Regions from separate parts of the Homo sapiens genome. Here region 1 is linked to region 2. The links come from fine-mapping of genetic effects on plasma protein levels. Region 2 holds a variant in brackets. A gene starts in the other region. All regions are shown on their forward strands. Region 1 holds the start of LRP1 (LDL receptor related protein 1). Region 2 overlaps MRS2 (magnesium transporter MRS2).

The links. A credible set is the group of variants that fine-mapping cannot tell apart. PIP is the chance, under the fine-mapping model, that this variant and not a neighbour inherited with it causes the effect. Protein levels are from antibody-based Olink assays in UK Biobank. Linkage for the fine-mapping came from a reference panel and not from the study's own genotypes, which makes the PIPs less certain.
Region 1: LRP1 starts here. The variant in region 2 is the best candidate, but not a certain one, in a credible set for the plasma level of the LRP1 protein (UK Biobank, PIP 0.63).

The regions. Positions count from the first base shown.
Region 1 is chr12:57,124,654-57,133,179 of GRCh38, forward strand. LRP1 (LDL receptor related protein 1) reads left to right here and starts at 3,830. Exons shown (of 89, transcript NM_002332.3): 1 at 3,830-4,378. The coding sequence starts at 4,312. RefSeq lists enhancers at 2,837-3,490, 6,572-6,741.
Region 2 is chr6:24,409,502-24,417,501 of GRCh38, forward strand. It overlaps MRS2 (magnesium transporter MRS2), which reads left to right. Exons shown (of 11, transcript NM_020662.4): 4 at 1-72; 5 at 2,721-2,894; 6 at 5,532-5,662; 7 at 6,896-7,012. Among named protein-coding and RNA genes, the nearest start is that of MRS2, 11 kb to the left of the region's middle. The variant A/G (reference allele first, on the strand shown) is at 2,531.

The DNA.
Region 1 (8,526 bases), not on the chromosome of region 2:
TGATTCCCTACTATTATGGTTATAATCTCAACCCAAGGATTTGAAGATGCCTCTTAAGAACAGATGTGGGGAGGAAGAGAAGGCACTGAGGCAGAGAGGATTAAACAATGAATGCTATAAGAGAAATAGAGGGAAGAAGATGCTTGAAGTCACATCCTGTTCCAGGAAAGGCAACTCTAGTCCTAACATTCCTTTCACCAATCAAGAGCCTCTCACGCTGGGTGGAAACGAAGAAGAAAAAGACATGGTCCCTGCCCTCAAGGAGTATATAGTCTAGTGGTGGATACAGAGCCCACAAAATAAAGTGCTAAACTCTGGATACTGAAGCTTTCCTGAATACAAGTTTGGAACAGGAGAGATAGGCAGAGCGAGAATAACAGGAGGGCTTTTCTGAGGAGGGTAGAGGAGCAGGGGAACTGTATCATTAATGGCTCAGATAGAAATATGCATTCTCAGCAGGGTGAGGTGGCTCACACCTGTAATCACAGCACTTTGGGAGGCCAAGGTGCATGGATCACCTGAGGTCAGGAGTTTAAGACCAGCCTGGCCAACATGGAGAAATCCCATCTCTACTAAAAACACAAAAATGAGCCAGGCATGGTGGTGGGTGCCTGTAATCTCAACTATTCGGGAGGCTGAGGCAGGAGAATCGCTTGAACCTGGGAGGTGGAGGTTGCAGTGAGCTGAGATCACACCACTGCACTCCAGCCTGGGCAACAAGAGTGCAACTCCATCTCAAAAAAAAAAAAGAAAGAAAGAAAGAAAGAAAGACATAAATATGCATTCTCTCACCTTACAGACATACCCTCAGCAGTTCACCTGCTGGAAATAACCCAAGTGCCCAACAATCCCAACAAACTGTGGAACATCCAAGCAAGGAGATTCCAAGTAGCCAAGATCAAAGGGTGAGCTAAATGCGTTCATACGGTATGGAAAGGGATCAAGCTAAGTTAATTGAAAAAAAGGCAAGTTACAGAACACTATATATCATATGAGTTTCTTTATAGTTTTAAAGGATATTCACTTATATTTGTATGTTACTGTTTTATTTATTTATTTATTTGAGACAGGGTCTCCCTCTGTTGCTCAGGCTGGAGTGCAGTGGCACGATCTCGGCTCACCACAACCTCCACCTCCTGGGTTCAAGCGATTCTCGTGCCTCAGCCTCCCCAGTAGCTGGGATTACAGGTATGCGTCACGATACGTGGCTCATTTTTGTATTTTTAGTAGATATGGGGTTCCGCCATGTTGGCCAGTGTGGTCTCGAACTCCTGAAAAGTGATCCTCCCACCTTCGTCTCCCAAAGTGTTGGGATTACAGGCATGAGCCACCACGCCTGGCCTGTATGTTACTGTTTTAAAAACTCTCCTGGCCGGGCACGGTGGCTCACGCCTGTAATCCCAGCACTTTGGGAGGCTGAGGAGGCCAGATCACGTGGTCAGAAGTTCGAGACCAGCCTAGCCAACATCGTGAAACCCCATCTCTACCAAAAATACAAAAAAAATTAGCTGGGTATAGTGGCGTGTGCCTGTAATCCCAGCTACTTGGGAGGTCAAGGCAGAAGAATCGCCGAACCCGGGAGGCAGAGGTTGTAGTGAGCCGAGATTAGGCCACTGCACTCCAACCTGGGCAACGGGGCAAGACTCCGTCTTGGGCGGGGGGGAAACCTCTGCTGGTAGGGGAGACCTGAAGAACTGTTAGTAGAAGTTACTCTGAGGGTGCAGCTGAAAAATGGGGGTGTGGAGAGCATCAAGTTTCCTTTTACTTTTTACCTTCCTGTACTTTTTTTAACCACTAGGTATTATCTTTTCTTTCTTTCTTTTTTTTTTAACAATATAAAGTTAATAAAAATACACATTCACATTCAGGAGACAGCAGGGGATGGGAGGTTGCAAGTGAGAAGTGCATGCTGACTGAGGCCAGGTTTTGGAAAGCCATGACTGAAGAGGAGTTCACATTTGACTGGTCTATAGACACCCACTAGAGGTTCCCCAGCAAGGAAGAGACACCGGGAAAGCAGTTTTTGGAAGATTCACCTGACAGATGGGTAGGGGGAGGGAGGAAAGCCCCTTCAAGCCCTCAGGCTACATGTGGTTGCTCCAGATACCGTTTTCCTCTCAAAGCTGTCAAGCTGTCTAAAGTCTGTTTCGACCTGATTTCACTTGGATCCCAATACTGGGAGGGGCCCTGGGAGGAACCTCGTAGGCATTTGGTGAGTCCGCATAGTGCGTCTCACATTGTGTTGGGCCATGGGAGCTGGATAAAAGGAGAAATAAGACCCCGTTCCTGCCTGGAGCAACTCTCTGGCAGTGGAAATGGAGGAAATCTGAGATATACTTCAGAGGAAAAAAATGACAAGCCTGGAGCACAGGCTGGCAAGATTGGATATAGGAAGGAAAGGCCCCCTTGAGTTGGCATAAAGTCTGAGGTTTCTAGCCCAGGAGACTAAAGGCAGGTGGCCACCGCGCTGAGCAAAGCCGGCTGGAAGAAGCTAAAGGTTGAGCTCACTGTCATTAGGAGGCAAGTCCTTCGTGCTGCTCCTGTTTCTGCCAAGGACAGACTGGAGTGGGGACTTTTCCGTAACTAGAACGTAAAAGGGGGAACAGTCCCTCCTCTCCAGCGTCAATTTTTGGCAGCCGACGTCGTCTGCCCCGCTCCTTGAACTCTGACATGCAGACACCTAGAAAGTCAGACACTAAGGTAACAGCCATAAAACGCCGCCCAGAAGGGGGCAGTGACCAAAAGCACGTTCACTGGCCCCTGGGAACCGCCTGGCGCCTGCCTTCTGCAAAGTATCATTCCCGTGTGGGCTGAGCCTGGGGACAAAGGTCCGGCGCTCAGCAGACACCTCCTTGGAACCCGAGGCCTGGAAACGAAGGTCCAGAGTCCCTCATCTTATTCCAAATCCTGGCGCTCGGAATCTAAAACCCTAACTTGATGGCAAGCCAGTCAGAAGGTATTAAAAAAAAAAAAAAAAAAAAAAACAGAAAAATAAATGAGCCCCGACTTCTTGGGCGAAAGGGGGTGGCCTTTCCTCAACCCCACCCGCTGGTGACTCACCTCCCTCCAAACCAGGGCCTGCCCCTCCCGCGCCTAGGGCTGGGCGAGCAGGGCGGGCGGGTACTAAGGTGGGCTCCATCCCCGAGCCCCACGCGGGCGGACAAGCTCCGGCGTGTCCCCTCGGGTGTCCCTGTTTACTCCGAGCCCGGGAGCGAGGTGGGGGCGGGTCCTCGCGGTCCCTCCCCAACCCCGCCCCCTCCTTCGCAGGCCCCAATCCCAGTCCGGTCTTCCAAAGTCTCCAAATCAAAGCTCAGCCTTTCCCTGCACCTTCCCCGCGGACTGGCGGTCCCTGTCCCCACCCCGGGCAGAGGAGGCACCTTCAGGGTTCCCCTAGAAAATCGAGCCTCGGCCCAGACCACTGAGTCCCGGACGCCCCCGGAGGGAGCCTGAAATCCTAGAGTATGACACTGAGTTTCAAAGGGGAGCCGCTCAGCTCTCCGCCCACTGCCCAATCCCACCCTCGACCCCTTCTGCTCTCTGGAGCACCAGGGAGGAGGGCCCAGCCAGGGGAGAGGGCGCCCCAGGCCCCAAACTAGCCAGCGAGTCCCCGGGACCCTCACTCTTGGACCGCTTTCCAGAACTCCGAACCCTGTCGCGGGTCCGCGTCGCCCTCCCCCGGGCAGCGCGTCAAATCGGCGCATGCGCACTCACTGGATTGCCGCGTAGCTCTTTCTCCCCCCACCCACCAACCTTTTTTCTTTCCCCGCCCCTTCCCTCCCTCCCTCCTCAACCCGTCCCCTCCCTCTCCCCCATCAGCCCCCCCCTCGGCACTTCAGTCCGGGGAACAGCGGTGCGAGCTCCAGGCCCATGCACTGAGGAGGCGGAAACAAGGGGAGCCCCCAGAGCTCCATCAAGCCCCCTCCAAAGGCTCCCCTACCCGGTCCACGCCCCCCACCCCCCCTCCCCGCCTCCTCCCAATTGTGCATTTTTGCAGCCGGAGGCGGCTCCGAGATGGGGCTGTGAGCTTCGCCCGGGGAGGGGGAAAGAGCAGCGAGGAGTGAAGCGGGGGGGTGGGGTGAAGGGTTTGGATTTCGGGGCAGGGGGCGCACCCCCGTCAGCAGGCCCTCCCCAAGGGGCTCGGAACTCTACCTCTTCACCCACGCCCCTGGTGCGCTTTGCCGAAGGAAAGAATAAGAACAGAGAAGGAGGAGGGGGAAAGGAGGAAAAGGGGGACCCCCCAACTGGGGGGGGTGAAGGAGAGAAGTAGCAGGACCAGAGGGGAAGGGGCTGCTGCTTGCATCAGCCCACACCATGCTGACCCCGCCGTTGCTCCTGCTGCTGCCCCTGCTCTCAGCTCTGGTCGCGGCGGCTATCGACGGTGAGTGAGATTCCGCGTCCCCCTTGGACCCCTGGGGGCACCCTCTCCCCAGCCCCCACTCCTGCATACGGATGGGGAAGGGAGACGCGGGAGGGGGTGCCTTTTGTTATCCCAGTCCAGCTGACACAGCAGCGGCCCGACTGGGGGCGGGGATGGGGTCCGATTTGGGGGATGGGGGCCCTGGGCAAATGATGCTTCCGGGGCCCCCCAGCACAAACAAAGACCAGAGGCCTGGGTAGAGAGAAGAGGGCTCCCCATTTTTCTGATCCTGGGGAGGAGAGGCCTTCTTTTCCTATCTCTGTTCGGGGAGGGCCTCCGCCTCCCCTACATCCTCACAACCCCCCACCCCCCATCTGAATTGTGAAGGAATCCGGATTTGCAATGTTCGGCTGCAAAAGGGGGTGGGGGTGGGGGGGGTGGCTTTTGCACTGGCCTCTGTAGCTCGAAAGGGGAGCCAGGCCAGGGGTACCCTGCCGGGCAGAGGGCAGGCAGGCCCGGGAAGGCTGTGGGTGGGGAGAGGGAGGGCCCCCTGCTTGGGCGTGGAATCGACCCCAGAGCCCCGGCTGGAGGCCTGGGTGCTGAAGTAGGCTCTTCCCCCTCTCAGGGCCTCTGTCAGTAGCCTGGGGTAGGGCTGTGTTGGGGGGCAGAGAGGGGGAGCTCGCCATACTATGTGACTTTGAATTTTCCTTCTTAATTCCTGGGAGCTTTGAGATGAAAAAACGTCAGATGTCATCACTGGGGAAGGGGACTGGAGAATGGCCTGGAATGCTGGGGTAGGAGGGTGGGGGAGGCTGCCTTCTTCCTGACTTCTGGCTTCATCACAGTTTGGATTGGAAGGAGAGTTGGAGGTTGGATGGGGATTATGGCTGTGCCCCCACACTCCTTTAGTAAATCTGTTTATTCCCTGCACCCCTCCAAGCCCAAAACCCCATACACACACACTTTGTATATTGCAGAGTTAGGCTTAGGCTAGAACTGCATCCTTTTGGGGAAATGGGGTGCCTCTCTTCCCTTTTTTTGTCAGCTGTTTTTTTCTCCTACTTGTGAGTCACTGGTTCAAGTCTTGCCCAAGCTTTAAGCATTAAGCTGGGGTCATGGGGTTGGGCTGGGCTAGGTCCCTGATTTGAGAAGGGGTGGGATCTCATCCCCTCCTGTCATCTTAGCCCTCTCATCCAAAGACAAAACTGGGCTGGATACCATCATACACCCCCTCCTCTGTCTTGCCAGATTGGGATTGGGAAAGTTTTTCTCTGAAACCAGATTATCTCCCTCCCTCTCCCTAACTTGCTTCAATTGGGGGAGGAGACTTACAGGGTCAGGAAGCAGCTGTGTCCCCAAAAAACATATTTAGTGTCCCTCAGTTGTGCCATCTTGGGGACTCTCTACCCCCCACCCCCACCCCACCAATTAGCTGCCCCGGAGGAGGAGAGGGGCTTTTCCTGAATATCCTCCAGATGCCGCACAGCCGGCTTCTGCCTATAACTCCTGTCATTATCATGTGTTTTTCTCTTGTTCTCAGCCCTGTGAGGTGAGAAGGGAAATCGAGGCAGGGAGATTGGGGTTGCAGCCGCTTCTGGGAGGAATAGAAAAAAAATTTGAGAGAGAGAGAGACCCATCAGGAGCCCCTTGAAGGAGGGTGGCTAGAGTTAGGCAGAAGCAAGAGGGTTTCTGTGGAGAGCAGGGAAGGTCAGGAAGGGACCCCAGATAGCATCACTCCCAGGGCTCTAAAGGAGTTCTATTTGCCACACCAAGTTAGTGGAAGAGAGAGACTGGACATGTTCTCCTTAACTATCTCCCTACCCTTTCTTAAAATGTTCACCCACGCCCCCTCTGTATCTCCAGCTCAGATCAAACTATCCAAAGCCCCAGGAGAGGACCCCTCCCCAAACACACACCAATATTTCTGCCTTGGGAGTGGGAATATAAATAATCAGCTCCACCCCACTCTTGGGTACAGGGTGGTGAGAAAGGGGAATTGCATAGAAATGTAAGTTCAACTCTATCCAGAGGCAGCCTAGGGGATCCCTTATCCCTAACCCCTGCCCTCTTGCCTCAGGGTCCATCAACATTGAACTTTCTTGTTTACTTTCCAGAGAATGGAGATGACCCAGCTCACCTGACTTAGTATGTTACCTTCCTCCTGCTATCACAGCCTTGCTGCTTTCTCTCCAGGGCAGCAATCCTAGGGGCTTTCCCACCTCTTCTGCTTTCTCTTCTATGCCTGAAACTGCCTCTGGGGTCCCCTGCCCTTTGGGGAGTAACGTCACTCCCCACTAGCGACAAAATTGAGTGTACCTGCTGCTGGAGAGGTTGCAGAAAGATGGGGTGGAGAATGGGACTATTGAGGGCCCTGCTGAGATTGGGGAACATTTTCTAGTGGGGAGGGCACCCCCAGACAAATACAGCTCACAGAATAAGGCTGACTTCCTCCCTCCCTTTTTCCTGACCTTCCTCCACACACCCCCTTGAGCCGGCATATTACCAGTTACTAGAGTAGGTACAGTGGAAGTGAGTTATGAAGCTGGGGTGTTAGCTTCCTGGATCCCTGAGAGAAAGTTCTAAACTCCTTTCTCCCTGATCAGACTCACATCCTAAACGTCTCCCTTTGCCTCGTTGTCTTTTAAAGCAAGAATGTGTAAGAAATTCATTTTGGGGTTGGAGGGATATTTTGATGTTTAGGGCTGCTTCACTAGACATCTTTTTCTTCTGATCTTGTTCTCTCTCCTCTCTTCATTTTCTCAACCACCCTTCCACCACTGAGCCTCCCAAAGGATGACAGCCCAGGTCCTGGCCAGAGTCAGTTCCTGTCCAGATGCCCCCATTCTTCAAAACCCCTTCCTTACCTTTTGGGAAGCCCTTCCTTACTCAAGTCTATCTCTCTTTCCTCCTGCTGCAGTGTGAGCCCTTGCACATCAGAACCCCCAAGCCTAGGTTTATTCCCGCCCAGTACTCTCTTCTCAGGGTCCTCCTCACTCCTCAGACTCTTTACCTTTCAGGTCCTCCAGCTCTGCGTGTGGGCTCATTGCTCTTGGGGCATCTGGGTGCAGCTGAATGGTACTGCAGGAAGGCCCCTGACTTGGTAGTGCTGGGTATGAGCGATAGAGAACCTGCCTCCCTCTTCTGTCCCAGATTTCAGCCTGGTTAGCAGGATCCTGCATTGTTTGGAGAAGGAAGCAGTTGGCTTTGGAGTGTTTCCGGTGCAATGGCCTCAGGCACCAATATAAACCCTCCCTGGGAAAGAGGTGAGGGGTATATGTGGAGAGTTGTCCCTCTTGCTCCCCTAGGGGAGATGAAAGCCTCTCCCTCTCCCACCAGGCCTTAGCTTCCCTGGCTGAAGAGCTCCATTTTCCTCCCTCCTTTCTACCCTCCTGACTCCAGGGGTGGTAGTGGTCCCTATTCTGGGTCTCCCTTGAGTCAGGCACTGCCTAGGGCCGAGACTCTGTCTCTCCAAGATAGGACAGATCTTGCTCCCACCCTACTCTAGGCTCAGCGGGGTAGTCATTCTCTGGGTTCATCCCAGGACAACTGTGTCATCCCCTTGGCAATCTCTGGACTGAGCCCCCTTCCTGGCTTTTCTGGCTGTCTGTCTGTCTTTCTGTCTGTCTGTCATTAGTGTGCGCTGTCTTGGCTTTTTAGAACCTCTCTGTCTCTCACCCTCTCAGTTCATCTCTTACTGCCGAACCTTTGTGACATTCTCTGCCCTGCTTTCTGCGTCTCTGTCACTTGTCTTATTTTTCTCTGCCTGTCTCCATTTACCCCCATCCAGGCCTCTTGGTATCCCAAAAGCTTCTTGGGAGCAAGAGTCTCTCTGGGCTTTCCCACTCACCCCCTGGCTCCCTCCCCTCTGTTTTGGCTATTTTTCCCCCTTCCTGGCCAGACCCAGTGTCCAGTTCAGCACCAAAAGTTTCCTCTCCACTTTCCTCCGACTTCCTCTTTCTTCTTCCCCCTCCACTAATTTGGGGAATGGGTTTTGGAGAGAATGTTTCTGGAAGAAAGGAACTTGATACCCTTTGTGGGCTAAGAGGGAGAAAGGAGGTATTTCAGAAGGAAGGAGGGAGGTTAGACTTCTGGCAGAACTTCCTCCTGACCAGGAGCCTAAGAACTGGAGAAAGATGTAAGGAGTGAGTCAAGAACTTGGAGCTTTTACT
Region 2 (8,000 bases):
GCCAGAGATTTGAGATTTCAGCATGTAATGAGTATCACAGTCAGAAACAATAGGATTATCATGAGAATGGAGGTAAAATATTTTATTTTCATCTATGTTTCTCCAATACAATCTTATAAAAGTTACCTTCTAACTATCTTGATTAGTATCTAGGTTAAAAGTAATTTTGGAATAGAAATAGCTACCTGAAACATAGGATGTTTTATAGCTTAATATGCTATTATGAGTAGAACTCATTTTATATGGATTATATGCACATGTTCAATAGGCATAACACTGCTGTGTTTTAAGTTGGAAAAGCTCTGACTGTGGTGTTCATTCTCACTGTTGGGATTTACTCTCTAGTTCTGGAAACTATAAGACAATCCTGATTTATAATAGATATATATCCAATTGTGTACAGTTACATGTAATTATAGTATAACCTGAGCTACCAAAAATGTATTCTGGCTTTCTAAATAGCACAGGAATAGACATTAAATTTTATAGCCTTAATTTTTTTTTTGAGATGGAGTTTTGCTCTTGTTGCCCAGGCTGGCACGATCTTGGCTCACTGCAACCTCCACCTCCCAGGTTCAAGCAATTCTCCTGCCTCAGCCTTCTGAGTAGCTGGGATTACAGGCATAAGCCACCAAACCCAGCTAATTTTGTATTTTTAGTAGACATGGGGTTTCTCCATGTTGGTCAGGCTGCTCTGAAACTCCCGACCTCAGGTGATCCACCTGCCTCTGCCTCCCAAAGTGCTGGGATTACAGGCATGAGCCACCGTGCCTGGCCAGTTTAAATTTTTTTAATGGAAAACTTTCTGAAATATATTGTATTTTCCCTTACCTATTCAGAGCATGCCAAATAATAATTTGACTTTCTTTAGTGATTCAGAGTTAATGTGGGTTTCAGTTATTTTGGTGGGCTAATGTTTAGGTTCAAAAATAGATGAATGGTATTGGCCCTGTAGTGGGTATGAGACTTTCTTCAAAGAGTCTTTGATGGCAGATTTTTGTTCATTTTTCTAGAACTAATCAAAATAATAAAAAATGGGCCAGTATTGGTAGCATGTGCCTTTAGTCCCAGCTACTCAGGAGGCTGAAGTGGGAGGGTCACCAGAGACCAGGAGTTTGTGACCAGCCTAAGCAACATAGCAAGATCCCATCTCTAAAAATAAATAAGTAAATAAAAAATACTTTATCAAAAATGAAGCAGTCTTCTCCCATGTGATTTTCTTCAGAAATATTCTCTACTCTTGGAATCAGTAGCTAGCATTCTTCAAAACAGTGTCTCTTTCATGGAGAGACAGACAGGTATGTGAAAAAGCAAATTCAGCAGAATGATAATTGTGTAATCTAACTGGTGGGTATATGGTGTTCACTGCAATCTTTCAACTTTTCTGTATAAAAATTTTCATGAGGCTAGGTTGTGGTGGCTCACATCTGTAATCCCAGCACTTTGGGAGGCCGAGAGGGGTGGATCACCTGAGGTCAGGAGTTCGAGACCAGCCTGACCAACATGGTGAAACCCCGTCTCTACTAAAAAATACAAAAATTAGCCAGGCATGGTGGCGGGTGCCTGTAATTCCAGCTACTCAGGAGGCTGAGGTAGGAGAATAGCTTGAACCCTGAAGGTGGAGGTTGCAGTGAGCCGAGATTGCCCCACTGCACTCCAGCCTGGGTGACAGAGCAAGACTTCCATCTCAAAAAAAAAAAAGAAAAAAAAATTCATGATAGAATGTTGGAAAAATGTAAAAATAGAAAATTATCTCTAATTTCTATATCACTGATAAAGTGGCTACCTTTATCTACTTTTAACATACAAGATAACCAGTCTTTTTAGAAAAAATTCTAATTTCATATTGTTCTAAATTAGAGTAGTAAGGCTATGTTTCATCTTAATTTCAGATTTTGTTTATATGCTTTAGTGGTGTTTTAAAAAGGAAACTTCCATTTGTGCCAAACTAATTATGATTAAACTAAATCTTTTCTAAAAGTCTGCTCAATACCTGACTTTTAGGAAGACCTTATCTTGTTCCCTTTATTTATTTATTTATTTTTTCCAAAAAAGAAAGACGGAGTCTCGCTCTGTCGCCAGGCTGGAGTGCAGTGGCACAATCTCAGCTCACTGCAAACTCCGCCTCCCAGGTTCAAGCGATTCTCCTGCCTCAGCCTCTGAAGTAGCTGGGACTACAGGTGTGGGCCACCACGCCTAACTGATTTTTGTATTTTTAGTAGAGACGGGGTTTCACCATGTTGGCCAGGATGGTCTCGATCTCTTGACCTCATGATCCACCTTCCTCAGCCTCCAAAAGTGCTGGGATTACAGGCATGAGCCACCATGCCCGGCTTTCTGGGGGTATTTTTTGGTGTTTTTTTTTTTGTTTTTGTTTTTTTTTCATGATTACCCCAGAAGTCTTAGTAAATATATAATTTATGTGAATAATTCCAGTTTTATTGAGAGTGAGTTAGCAGTATCAAGACATATATTTTTTAAGTTTCTTTTCTTTTGAAAAAAAAAACCTTGATTTTTTTGAAAAACAAAA[A/G]TGAACACTGATTTGGTTTAGTCTTAATCCACAATTAGTAAAGTATTAAACCAAATTTTATGAATGTTCTTTTTTCCTACAGCTCTACAATTTGCATATATATATGTATGTATACATATATATGTATATACATGCATGTGTGTATATACACTCACATATTTATATGTTTTGGTTTTTTTTTTTTTAACAGTATTTGAAAGCTGTGATAACTCCAGAGTGTCTTCTGATATTAGATTATCGTAATTTAAACTTAGAGCAATGGCTGTTCCGGGAACTCCCTTCACAGTTGTCTGGAGAGGGTCAACTCGTTACATACCCTTTACCTTTTGAGTTTAGAGCTATAGAAGCACTCCTGCAATATTGGGTAAGTCTGTTTTTATTTAGCTTCTTGGGTTTATTCTGATTTTGAAATGTCATTGAGTGGGAAGACAAGTTGGGGTATTGTTTCAATGGCATGTCCCCTGACCACATCCTGCCCCGAAACAAGTCGTCTCTAAGGATCCTACATGGAGATATCACTTAATTCTTAAATGTTATGACCCAGTCAAATAGAACTAAAGACTCTATGTATATTATAAAAATGCTTGACATGTGATAATTATTTTATTAAATCATTTCATCAAGTCATTTTTTGATTTGTTTGTACAATCCTTTGTTTGAGCCAGGTAAATGATGCATCTTTTTGAGACCTAGATTGACATAGGAATCACGCACAGTTCTTCCAGTGACTCCTCCTTTAAATTAAGAGTCCTTAGATGTCTGAGACTCCTGTCAGGCTCTAAACAAGGGTGGTTCTCTGCTTCCCTGACCCCACAAATCTTTCATTATCTTTTCTTCCTCCTGTTAAGTCAGGATGGTACTGTTCAGGAACTGGCTACATGCAAGAGTTGGTGCTGGGAGCATACTAACCAGAGTGGGAGGAGGAGAGAGGGTAGAGAGGACATGAGGTGCATTGGGTTGGGTGAACCTGGCACACTTTTCTTTTGTCTGCCTTGCTCTGAAAGAATAGATGGCTACACTTCCTGCTTGGGGTAATTAATGAGCACCAGCTAGCACCAGCCAGTGAGATGATAAGTAGTGGGAGCCCAGTTACCAAGCAGGGGGAAAGCAGAAGAGAGAAAGAAGATGTAAACAGTGGTAAGTCATGGGCTCCACAGGCTGGGTAAGCTCTCAGGAGCTCATGCTGTTAGGAGAAAGACAGGGATCTTAAAGGGAGCAGGAGGGGAAGGAGAGAGGCTAGGCTGGCATGGGTCTCCGGCCTAGAGATTGGCTGTGGGGAGAATAGAGAGGGAGTTCAGGATGTCTGCTGGGATACACATTCTTCTTCCTTTAAATGGGGTCCCAGGAAGATTTCCTTACGAAACAACACTACATAGAAGCAAGACCAGCCACCTCTCAAAAGGGATAAGTTTTCGAACAAGGGAAAGCTCCCCAAACCCACCTAAGGGACCAAGACATACCATGAGTAGATATGCCTCACAAATACCCTATCTGTGACCCTCAGCAGCCTCCCCAACCACTACAAAAGTCCACACCTTGCTGAGCAGAGGGTTTGATATCTCTTAGATTAAAAGATGTGGTCTGCCTATTTGGCTGTCCAGTCTTCCCTCCCACCCAAGGACTTCTTAACCCGGAAGCAGTTCCTCTGGAGACGAAATAAACAACATGTCTGCAGAGGCACTGTGACTCTGGACTTGTTTCCAAATAAAAAAATCTGTTTCACAGTAATTGTGCTTCTGAGATAAAGACTATATGCTGTAATTTACGTCATCAGTTTTACCGCTTGATTTAGTTAGTATATGCTATTTGCCAACTGGCATGGAAGTGTTTCAGTATTTTAACAACTATATAGCAGGATTAGTGCATACCTGCCGAATATCAAATATCAAACCATACTTGTGTTAACCTAAATAGTCTATTTTTGACTTTACTCTGATATGTTTATGTTTTAAAGCTCAAGTTTTTATTTTCAAAGAGCTTTGTAGGAATTTTGAACCATATTCTGTTTACAGAGAACACAGGTATTACTGAAAGCTTGTGTTTTAATAATAGCAGATTTTATTTTACTTGATCCCTCATTACTTCATAATGAATGTCTATAGGAGAAAGACTTTTTTTTTTAAATTTTTTTAGTATTTATTGATCATTCTTGGGTGTTTCTCGGAGAGGGGGATTTGGCAGGGTCATAGGACAATAGTGGAGGGAAGGTCAGCAGATAAACATGTGAACAAGGGTCTCTGGTTTTCCTAGGAAGAGGACCCTGCCGCCTTCCGCAGTGTTTGTGTCCCTGGGTACTTGAGATTAGGGAGTGGTGATGACTCTTAACGAGCATGCTGCCTTCAAGCATCTGTTTAACAAAGCACATCTTGCACCGCCCTTAATCCATTTAACCCTGAGTGGACACAGCACATGTTTCAGAGAGCACAGGGTTGGGGGTAAGGTTATAGATTAACAGCATCCCAAGGCAGAAGAATTTTTCTTAGTACAGAACAAAATGGAGTCTCCTATGTCTACTTCTTTCTACACAGACACAGTAACAATCTGATCTCTCTTTCTTTTCTCCACATTTCCCCCTTTTCTATTCGACAAAACCGCCATCATCATCGTGGCCCGTTCTCAATGAGCTGTTGGGTACACCTCCCAGACGGGGTGGCGGCTGGGCAGAGGGGCTCATCACTTCCCAGACGGGGCGGCCGGGCAGAGGTGCCCCTCACCTCCCGGACGGGGCGGCTGGCCGGGCGGGAGGAGAAAGACTCTTACGAGAGTTAGCTCCTTGTCAACCAAATCTGTGCCTAAAGATAACATCATACATAGTTCTTTGAACCCAGAGGATCTAGTTTTTGAATCATCTGGAATAGGCATTCTAGAATTATCTATGTTCTGAAATGTTACCAGCATTTCAAGCTACTACAGATTTCTGTATTTAATCAGAGGATTCACTGATCCTGAATATTCTAAAAAGATTGTTTTAATTCTTATGAAAGGTCATGTTGTTATCTAGATCAACACCCTTCAGGGGAAACTTAGCATTTTGCAGCCACTGATCCTTGAGACCTTGGATGCTTTGGTGGACCCCAAACATTCTTCTGTAGACAGAAGCAAACTGCACATTTTACTACAGAATGGCAAAAGGTAAATATGGATGATGTATCACATTGGGAGTTGGAGACAAATATCTTAAAATCAATTATTAACATTTTGTTTCATAACTTTTTTTAAAGTATGAAAGTAGCCTAGGTGGGAAGTTGAGCTAAAAGGGGCACACAATCTACTGTTTGTTGAAAAGATACTTTGCATGAAATGTCATGTAAGGCTCTTTTCCGTATGTGATCTCATCTCATCACCCATTCAATAGTTGATATTGTCTTCATTTTGAAGATGAGAAAATTGAGGTTTGAGTAACTTGCCTAAATTTATATGGCTAGTAAATGGCAGATCTAAATCCAAATTCAAAGTCCATGTTGTTCTTTTTCTTTAAAATCATAATGCATTCCAGAATTTAATAACAATATTATATATGTATCATAAATAGAATAAACATGCTCTCAGGAGTTATACTCCCGAAATCCCTTCAAGAATTAACATTTAAAATTCCTGAATCAGTAGTTTCTTATCCAAAAATGTTGGAGTGTTTTTATCAGTTAAGAGTAACTAGTCTGTTCTATATTATCACTGCCATGTTGATTAATAAAATTCCCAAACCAAAAATCTTAAATTCACAAGCGATTTATGTTTCTGAGATAAGTAATGTATGATGAAATTTATATCACTGATAATTTTACCAATTAATTTAGATCTGGTTTGGGTTTTTTGTGGGTGTTTTTGAGACAGGGTTTCACTCCGTTGCCCAGGCTGGAGTGCAGTGGTGCAGTCTCAGCTCACTGCAGCCTTGGTTTGGGTTTTTTGTGGGTGTTTTTGAGACGGGGTTTCACTCCGTTGCCCAGGCTGGAGTGCAGTGGTGCAGTCTCAGCTCACTGCAGCCTTAACCTTCAGCAATCCTCCCACCTCCACCACCCAAGTAGCTGGGACTGCAGGCACATGCCACCATGCCCAGCTAATTTTCTAAATTTTTTTGTAGAGACAAGATCTCACTGTTGTCCAGGAGGGTCTCAAACTCCTGAGCTCAAGCAATCCTCCTGCCTTGGCCTCCTAAAGTGCTAGGATTACAGGCGTGACACCATGCCTGGCCAAATTGATTCTTAATTTGCCTGGTAAATACTCAACTTTTTTTTTTTTTTTAAATAAGTCATTGTTTAGCATGAATGTATAAGATAATATATTTGATAAGATACTCTAAAAACACTATTATGAAATGTTCTTATAAGTTTATTCTATTGATCATTTTTGTGTATCTATTTCTTATAGTCTATCAGAGTTAGAAACAGATATTAAAATTTTCAAAGAGTCAATTTTGGAGATCTTGGATGAGGAAGAGTTGCTAGAAGAGCTCTGTGTATCAAAATGGAGTGACCCACAAGTCTTGTAAGTATATAATTATACTTTGTTATTTATTTCCTTAGAGTAAATCTTTTGCCTTTTCCACTTCAAGGTGATTTTTCATACAGAATGTAACATTTTTCTGGACTACAGAATATAGAGATTTTTCATCCCCAGTTTCCCTTTTTTCCTGTGCAGTATCGTATCTAATTCAATGTAATTCTATGAGTATGCATACTGCATACCCAACACTGCTGACATGTGGTGAATATAAACACACAGTTACCTTTATATTCAAGGGACTGACCACCAGATTGGCATATACATCTACCAAAATAACTTACCTAGGAAGCAGAGTGGGAGAGAAATTTACATGGGGGAGGGAAAAGATGGGGTAAATACACGAGTAACACATTAACATGGATTATGTAAGTTCAGTCTAATGAAAATGTTAATCTTATAAACCTTTTATCTTTTATGAATTTAGAAATTGTTTATGCTTCTTGTGCACACTCCAGCTAAATGTTTACTTTTAAATACCCAAATATTTTGTTATTGTCTTTCTAGAGCAGTATCAGAAATTAATACACCTTTGTAATGAGTTTAGTTTCCACAGTCTGTACAGATTTTCTTACAGCACTTTGAAAAATTGGTTATTTATATCCTGATAAGGAAATAATAAGATAAAGGGGGCTATATAACATTTGGTAGATAGCCGATAGGTATGGTAGCAGAAACTGTTTGCTTTGCTTAGGCCAATCTGTCAATCTGTCTCTAATATGCTTTATGATACAGGTACCTCTTCAGAGTACTTCATTCCCCCTTACCCTTCTTGGTAGGGTAGGGGAGCAAAGTTATTACTGATATCATTCAAAAACATTTTCTTTATATGAAATCACATTATGTACACACCTCAAAAGGAAATGGTCTTGACATTTTTAGTTGTGGATTTTGTTTTACCTGATAGTGGTATTGGCTTTGCACTAATTCATCTGCATTCACATATCTGGATTTTCCTGTAACTGGCAGCATG